Regions from separate parts of the Homo sapiens genome. Here region 2 is linked to region 1. Evidence: fine-mapped expression QTL. A gene starts in region 1. The other region holds a variant in brackets. All regions are shown on one strand. Distances are between the middles of the regions. Region 1 holds the start of LINC02390 (long intergenic non-protein coding RNA 2390). Region 2 overlaps CLEC2D (C-type lectin domain family 2 member D).

What was found.
Region 2: its variant is fine-mapped to the expression of LINC02390 in whole blood (INTERVAL, PIP 0.96).

What each region holds. Positions count from the first base shown.
Region 1 is chr12:9,700,851-9,705,256 of GRCh38, forward strand. LINC02390 (long intergenic non-protein coding RNA 2390) reads left to right here and starts at 2,534. Exons shown (of 2, transcript XR_931347.3): 1 at 2,534-3,307. It also overlaps a transcript of CLECL1 not described here. RefSeq lists an enhancer at 1,322-1,371.
Region 2 is chr12:9,679,001-9,683,406 of GRCh38, forward strand. It overlaps CLEC2D (C-type lectin domain family 2 member D), which reads left to right. Exons shown (of 5, transcript NM_013269.6): 2 at 1,923-2,033. Among named protein-coding and RNA genes, the nearest start is that of CLEC2D, 11 kb to the left of the region's middle. The variant C/T (reference allele first, on the strand shown) is at 2,032.

The sequences.
Region 1 (4,406 bases):
TACAATTTGGAATAGACACTTAATCCAGAATTGAAGAGATATAGATAAAAATGAACTGAGTGCAATGCCAAGAGATAGGATAAATATGGCCCCCTCCAAAAAAAGATCCTAAGTCCATGACAGTGGTGCTAGAGATTTCTCACAAAACTCCAAGGAGTAAAACAAGAAACTATAAAGACAGATGGAGAACCACATGTTATGGTACATCATATAAACAACGAAGAGATGGTAGTCAATTGTGTAAGAATCTCGAAGTTGTTGGGTTCAAATAAAGAGAATTATGAAATGAAATAAGTATCCAATTAACACAGGAAATAATATGAACAATGGGGTTAGGAGAACAGAGATCAATGTAAGAGATGTTTCCAAAAGTAATGATGTTGTCATGGAAGTTGGCAGATGATCAAATTATCAGGTATGTAAAACTGATCATGAAGGTGTTCCAAGGAAATTACTCTAATTGTTTCATCAATATTGAACCCAAAATTAAATCAACCCAAACATAGAAAAGGAAAAAAAAAAAGGCAAAAGGCACAGTGTAATGATGCTCTCTTTACTCCTTTGGAAGGGATTGATAAAATTGCAACTACTTCTTGTATAAAGAATCATCCATTTTATAGATGACTACAAATTCAATCCTAAACCTTCAAATACAATGAAAAGAAAGTATGTACTGAGAGCTGGAATGACTACTCACCTAGGCCAAAGTCTCACCTAGGAATGAAGCATCAGGCACACAGTGCACTGAGCATGGCTGAAGGTGCATTGACTAATCTTCTAAAACCTACTCCAGAATGAGAGAGACTGGTACAACTCCATTTGTGCTAAATTTGGAGATATAAACAATATTTTGGAGTTAAAACCTAGAAGTTTTCAAATCTACATAAAAAATCAATTTCTTTTTTTTCTTGCAAAAGCAGAAAAGATGAGAGGACATTGGCACCTGCCAAGAGTGTTGATGAAATGGGGTACTTCCCTGGCCTCTTTGCAGGAGTTGCAAAGGGGTTGGCTTGTTTACTCAGCCCACAGCTCTCAACCCCTCATGGGAGGGGAAACTCACAGGTGAGTGGGTGTAGGGATCAGGATGAGGGCTTCTGTGTGCCAGCAGGAGTAGAACTCTGTGCTGCCCCATGGCAACATCTAGGGGAGTTCCCATGACCCCTCAAGCCCCAGAGGGTGAGTGTTACAGTGTGCTCTTTTAGCTTTTCTATCCACAGATGACAAGTATTTAACAGCTCAGTGGAGGGTCAGGGTGACAGCCTTTTGGACCTGCCTTCTTGGTACCTCAGTTCTTGTTTAGCGTCCAGGAAGAATCAGGTCATGCAAACAAATTGAAGGGTAGTGAATGTGGAGGATTTTATTGAGGGATGGAAGTGGCTCTCAGCGGGATAGGGAGCTGGAAAGTGGATGGAATGGGAAGGTGGTATTCCCCTGGAGTTCAGACAAACTCTTCTCCGAGGTCCCACCATCAAGCTGTCCCTCTGAGCTCAAACTGCTTCTCTCTGACATCCGGCTGCTTCTTCTTTTCTTTCTTTCTCTGTCACTCTGCTATTCCGCTGCTCTGCTGCTCTGCCACTCTGGTGATGGGGCCTGTGGTTTTTATGGGTAGAGGATGGGGTGTGGGGTGGGCCAAAAAGCAACATGTGAGTGGGAAAGCAGGAAATGCATGTTCTCATTTTGGTCTGTGATCCCAGGCTTGAGGATGTGTGGCTCTTGCTTGGGACAGCCCTCTTCTGCCCAGTATTTCCCTGCTTCCCACCCATATCACCAACACTGCTCCTAACCCTACTCAAAAGGTACATTAAAATATAGAGGTGGAAAGTTATATGCTGCTTCTCTCAGAGCAAACCCTTTCTCTCTTATGTAAAATAACTAACTTTCCTCCACAGCATAATTTAAAAAGAAAACTAATGATGACATTAGTCAGAAATCTGTAGACATCTCTACTCCTCTAGTAACTCTGAAAACTGGGTCTGCTAATGAGTTGGTAGCATTAAATCTGAAGACTGAAAGTTTTCTATTCTGTTCCTTCTCTTTTTACCCTTACTTTAGTGGAACAGTAAATTTCAGTAAAATCAGTGAAGGTGTATCTGCCAAGGTTCCAATCAACACAGAGGAAGAGAAGACTTGTTCTATAACTAAACTAGTAGACAACCCAGAAAAATTATCTCTACTTATAATAAACAGAAATCCTAATTACTGCATCCAACTACCTGACCATCATTCATTTTTAAGAGACAGAATTTTTAACGTTCCAAAGTTCTCACCCAAAAGAGATCTGACAGTTTCTGACTGCAATCCATTCTGGAGAAGTTGCTACTAAATTGAATAGAGTAAAGTTATTGTTCCTTTAAATACAATATCTATGAATGGACAATCAAGATTTATGTCCCTTAAGGCATAAGACAGCTGTTAAATGTTGTTCCTCCATTGTACTAATCAACTTCATACTACTGGAGGATATTTGTAAAAAATATTTATATATACACACATACACACACACTCTTAAAATAATTTGTGCTAGGTTATTTATTTATTTATTTATTTATTTATTTATTTATTGAGACAAGGTCTCACTCTGTTGCTCAGGCTGGAGTGCAGTGGCATGATCATAGCTCACTGCAGCCTCAGCTTCCCAAACTCTGGCGATCCTCTCACATCAGCCTCCCAAGCAGCTGGGACCACAGGCATGTGCCATTATACCTGACTAATTTTTGAATTTTTTGTAGAGACAGAGTTACACCGTGTTGCCAAGGCTGGTCTCAAAATTTTGGGGTCAAACAATCTACCTGCCTTGGTCTTTCAAAGTGCTTGGATTATAGTTGTGAGCCACTGAGCTCAGCCTGTCCTAGGTCTTTTAATGTCAAAAGAACACTTGCCCGCATATATATATATATGTATACATATTTGTCATTTCTTTGTCTTAAAACTGGAATATCCTGCTTTAAAACTTTAAGACAAAGTGTAAATGATTTTCTTTTTTTAATGAGAAATAGTCACCTTTTGTCAATTTTATTTGCTGATTTTATTGACTTGCGTATTCTACAGTGGAGACCTCAACATATTCTATGTATTGTGTTTTAGTAGCAAGGTGAACATATGTATGATATTTTCCACCTTAATGTTACTCTTTAATTGAATACATTTATAAGTTACATTAAAGCTTATTTTATGTTGAAAGAAGGAGCTAGAAAACTAGTGATGTTAAACAATGTGTTAACATTTATTTTCAATGATGAATCATTTAGTTTACAAGACATATCTTGTATTTTCTTTAGGTAATTGCCAAATCAGAGTCAAATTTATGGTAAGTTCATAGTACTTTAATATTTTATTAATATGAAATACTTGATTTTTACATCTTTAGAATTTTAATTGCACAAGGAGAACTTCCAATAAATATTTTCTGTATATAATTATGACACTTTCTTCACAAATATTACATATTCTATGCTCCAAGGCCTTGAACAATTTCTTGTGAAAATGTTGCTGCATTGTCACAGTTATTTCACAATTTTCATATAGAGAGGAATAGGGATTAAGTTATGTTCATTTGCTTTTTTTAACTTTTAAGTTCAGAGATACATGTGCAGGATTTGTAGATTTGTTACATAGGTAAACACATGTCATGGAGATTTATTGTACAGATTATTTTATCACTCAAGTATTATGCCTAGTATCCATTATTTTTTAAATTCTCTCCCTCCTTTCACCCTCTGCTGTTTGGTAGGCCCCCGTTTTTGTTATTTCCCTCTAGGTATCTATGTGTTCTCATCATTTAGCTCTCACTTACAAGTGAGAACATGTGGTATTTGATTTTCCATTCCTGTGATAGTTTGGTAAGAATAATGGCATCTAGTTCCATATATGTCTCTGCAAAGGACATGATCTTGTTCCTTTTTATGGCTGCATAGTATTCCATGGTGTATATGTACCACATTTTCTTTATCCAGTCTATCGTTGATGGGCATTTAGGTTGATTTTGTGTCTTTGCTATTGTGAATAGTGCTGCAATGAACATATGTGTGCGTGTGTAGTTATTATAGAACAATTTATATTGCTTTGGGTATACGCCCAGTAATTGGATTGCTGGGTCGAATAGTAGTGCTGTCTCTAGGTCTTTGAGAAATTGCCATACTGTCTTCCACAATGGTTGACCTAATTTACACTCCCACCAACAACGTAAAAGCATTCCTTTTTCAACACAACCTTGCCAACATCTATTATTTTTTGACTTTTTAATAATAGCCATCTGACTGGTGTGGGATGGTGTCTCATTGTGGTTTTGATCTGCATTTCTCTAATGATCAGTGATATTGAGCTTTTTTTCATATAATTGTTGGCCACATGTATGTCTTCTTTTGAGAAATGTCTTTTCATGTCCTTTGCTTACTTTTTAATGAGGT
Region 2 (4,406 bases), 22 kb before region 1:
CAAATAATACTATACCATTTCACAGGTACTGTGAGTACCTTATAATAAAAAAATCTAATTCTCTGCTTTTATCCCATGTGTCATTTCTGTTATTTATTTTATTTACATGTAAGAATACATAAGCATATAAATATATATAAAAGATGTATACATAAGCACACATAATTAAATATATTGCTACTATTGTTATTTTGAACAAACTGCCATTTGTTAGATCAATTAAGAATAAGAAAAATAGTTTTATTTTACCTTCACTTATTTTTTATATTGTTCCTTTTTCATATAATTTAGGTTTCTAACCTGTATAATTCTCTTTCCTTTTAAAATAATTGCATTTAACTTTTTTGTTTTTTGATATAAGACAAGTCTACTGGCAACAAGTTATCTCAATGTTTCTCCAAAATAGTGGTTGTTTCTCATTCACTTTGAAGAATTTTTTTGGCTAAAGAATTCTAAGTTGATAAGGTTTTTTCTCTTAATACTTTAAATATTTGTTTCCACTGTCTTCTTGCTTGCATGGTTTTTGAGAAGAATGTAAATGTCATTTTTATCTTTGTTTCTCTACATGTAGAATTTATTTTCCTCTGGATTCTCTTATGATTTCTTAAATCTTTGATAAAGGGGGTACAGGGGCATATGTGAACTCTATATTTTTAATTCAGTATTTCTGTCAACTTAAACTGATAAAAACTAAAATCTATTGATTAAGACAAATATCTTGGGAAACATCAATGTAAAGCTTGCTGATCTCTCTAGTGTTGGGGGGAATGTTGGAGAAAAATATGCCTATTTAGCTAAGGACAAACCTAGATAAATTAACTAGAGGTGTGAATTGTATGCAAGAGATTGTGTCAGAACAGGGTTCCAATAATGAACTTCATAAGAGGTTTTAGATAACCTAAGACATTTTGAAATATAACACAACTACAGGAAATTATACAATACAAATATGTAGCTTGATTAATTATTATAAGATAAACACCTTTGTTGACTCCTGATATGGCCTAGCTGTGTCTTTACCCAAATCTCATCTTGAATTGTAGTTCTCATAATCCCCACTTGTCATGGGAGGGACCCAGTGGGAGATAACTGAATCATGGAGTTGGTTACCCTCGTGCTGTTCTTGTGATAGCGAGTGAGTTTTCATGATATCTGATGGTTTTATAAGGGGCTTTTACCCCTTTGTTAGGCACTTCTGTCTCCTGCTGCCATGTGAAGAAGAACACGTTTGCTTCCTCTTCCACCATTATTGTAAGTTTCCTGAGGCCTCCCCAGCCATGTAGAATTGTGAGTCAGTTAAACTTCTTTCCTTTTTAAATTATCCAGTCTTGGGCAGTTCTTCATAGCAGTGAGGATGGACTAATACAACTGCTAACATTGTCTAAGAAAGATCCTTGTTATGTGGCTCAGAGGCCCTCCATGTATTCTTAACTATTCACTCTCCTATCCTTCCAAGAATAACACTAATTTGACCTCTACAATAATCACTTTATCACTCCAGTTTTGCCTTTTTTCCTCCAAAACAATGCCTTTTAAGTCTATTTTAATCGATAGATTTCCTCTTAATATCATTTAAAAATATTTCTTTACATTTTTAGACAGGAATCAGAATAATTTGCTATGTTGAATTTCCAGTTACTTGGATTTTGTTGATTTCATTCCTGTGGTTTAGTTGACATGAATCTCTCCAATTGAAAGGGTAACTTGAATATGGTAGCTGGAAAGTTAAAATCAATTCTTTTAACTTTGGAAAATGATTAAATTCTGGAGATAGAATAGTAAGTTCATAAGATGACAGGTCATTTGCATCCTCTAGTGAAAAGCGAAGGAATTAAATAAAAATAACATTTTGATGCTTAATGTTTCTGGCAGTATTATGTCTGTATTTAATTGTTAAAATGTTTTTCAATAATTTTTTCCAGGTTGTCTGCATTCAAAAGAGCATTCTATTAAAGCTACCTTAATTTGGCGCTTATTTTTCTTAATCATGTTTCTGACAATCATAGTGTGTGGAATGGTTGCTGCTTTAAG[C/T]GGTAAGTGAACTGTAATCTTTATTCATCTAGAGAGAATTATACTTGTAAAAAGAAGAGGAAGAATCTGAATAATTTTGTTATTCTTTACAGCTTTTAATATATTGTCTCACTAACTGAGTTACACTCCAATAACTTTTTAAGTGGCACCAAAAATTTTAATTATGTAAATAGGGTTCACATTATTCCAAGTTTAGTGAGATGATCAGAGTCTTCAGAAGGTAGAAGACAGACCACTATTCCTTAAGAATATTGATGCAAAAATTAAAAAAAATAGTAAACTGAAAAATAGTCTCTTGTCCGATCTAGGAACATGGTTAATTTTACCTCCACAACAACCTTGTTTCATGAAAAATAGCAAAACAGATGGTTTAAAGTACACAAAACTACTAAGTGGCTGTATAACATCACAGGCAGCCTGTTCTTTCTTCCTAGCTATTTGAGCATGTTCTGGCCCTTGTTTTTTTTAGCATATGTAGCCCATCTTCCTAGAAAACAAACTCCGTTTAGTGATTGTACCCTAAAAGCAATTAGCTATAAAAATTATCTTGTACTTCAAAACATGCTTGCAGTGCATCTAATATAGACCAAGCGAAGACATAGAAAACTACAAAAGCACTTCCCCCAAACCTCATGCCAATCTGGATATCAACCTAAAATCTACCCCCTGTTACTACATTCTGAAGTAATTTCAGAGAGACCCTTCAAATACTGCTTACGTAACTTAAGAGTCAGCAATACTTGGAGCACTCCATATAACACTCTAAATAATTTCTATTCATTTGCAAATCTTTTGCTTATTATCTTTTGGCATTTTGAAACCACAGATAATATACTTTATACATTTATGAAGCAAAAATAATTTTTTTATTTCAGAGATTTAAGTCAACTAATTGTAACTATTTAAGAAAGAAAAAATTGGAAAGAGACAATTTCTGTACTCTGTAAGTACCTCAGTATTAATCAAGGGAATGTATTCTGAAATATAATTTAAATTTATAGCTCTTTTTTTTACAGTAAGCATATGAAATTGACACTTATGACTGTTTTCCTTTATTATCCATTATGTGTTTCTCTTCCTTTCAGCTAGCACTTTGGAAATGATTTCTTGTGTGGAGCCAATAGCTGGAGCCATCTTCTAATCTGGTCATTTTCTTTCTTTCTTTTTTTAAATGTGTTATTATGTATTACTTTATATCATTTTTATGTTTTATTTAACATTTAGATTGTTAGTTAACTATTCAAGTGTGGTATTTCCCCATTTAAATCGAGTTATTTAGATTGGCTTTAGTTATAAAAATTCCTAATAGAGCTTTGTAGTTATAGCTCTGGTCCCTAACTTTTTTTTTAAATTATACTTTAAGTTCTGGGATAAATGTGCAGAACCCGCAGGTTCGTTACATAGGTATACACGTGCCATGGTGGTTTGATGCACCTATCAACCCATCATCTATATTAGGTATTTCTCCTAATGCTATCCCTCCCGTTGCCCCCCAACCCTCAACACGCCTCAGTGTGTGATGTTCCGCTCCCTGCATCCATGTGTTCTCATTGTTCAGCTCCCACATATGAGTGAGAACCTGCAGTATTTGGTTTTCTGTTCCTGTGTTAGTTTGATGAGAATGATGGTTTCCAGTTTCATTTGTCTCCCTGCAAAGAATATGAACTCATTCTTCTTTATGGCTGTATAGTATTCCATGGTGTATATGTGCCACATTTTCTTTATCCAGTCTATCATTGATGAGCATTTGGGTTGGTTCCAAGTCTTTGCTATTGTGAATAGTGCCACAATAAACATACGAGTGCATGTGTCTTTATAGTAGAATGATTTATAATCCTTTGGGTATAGACCCAGTATTTCTGGTTATAGATCCTTGAGGAATTGCCACACTGTATTTTCCAAAATGGTTGAACTAATTTACACTCCCACCAACAGTGTAAAAGTGTTCCTATTTCTCTACATCCTCTTCAGCGTCTGTTGTTTCCTGACTTTTTAATGATTGTCATTGTAACTGGCATGAGATGGTATCTCATTGTTGTTTTGATTTGAATTTCTCTAATGATCAGTTATGATGAGCTTTTTATCATATATTTGTTGGCCACATAAATGTCTTCTTTTGTGAAGTGTCTGTTCATATCTTTTGCCCATTTTTTGATAGGGTTTTTTGTTTTATTCTTGTAAATTTTTTTAAGTTCCTTGTAGATTCTAGATATTAGCTGTTTGTCAAACGGATAGATTGCAAAATTTGTCTCCCATTCTGTAGGTTGCCTGTTCACTCTGATGATAGTTTGTTTTTTGTGTTTGTTTTTTTTTTTTTTTTTTTGTGCAGAAGCTCTTTAGTTAAATTAGATCCCGCTTGTCAATTTTTGCTTTTG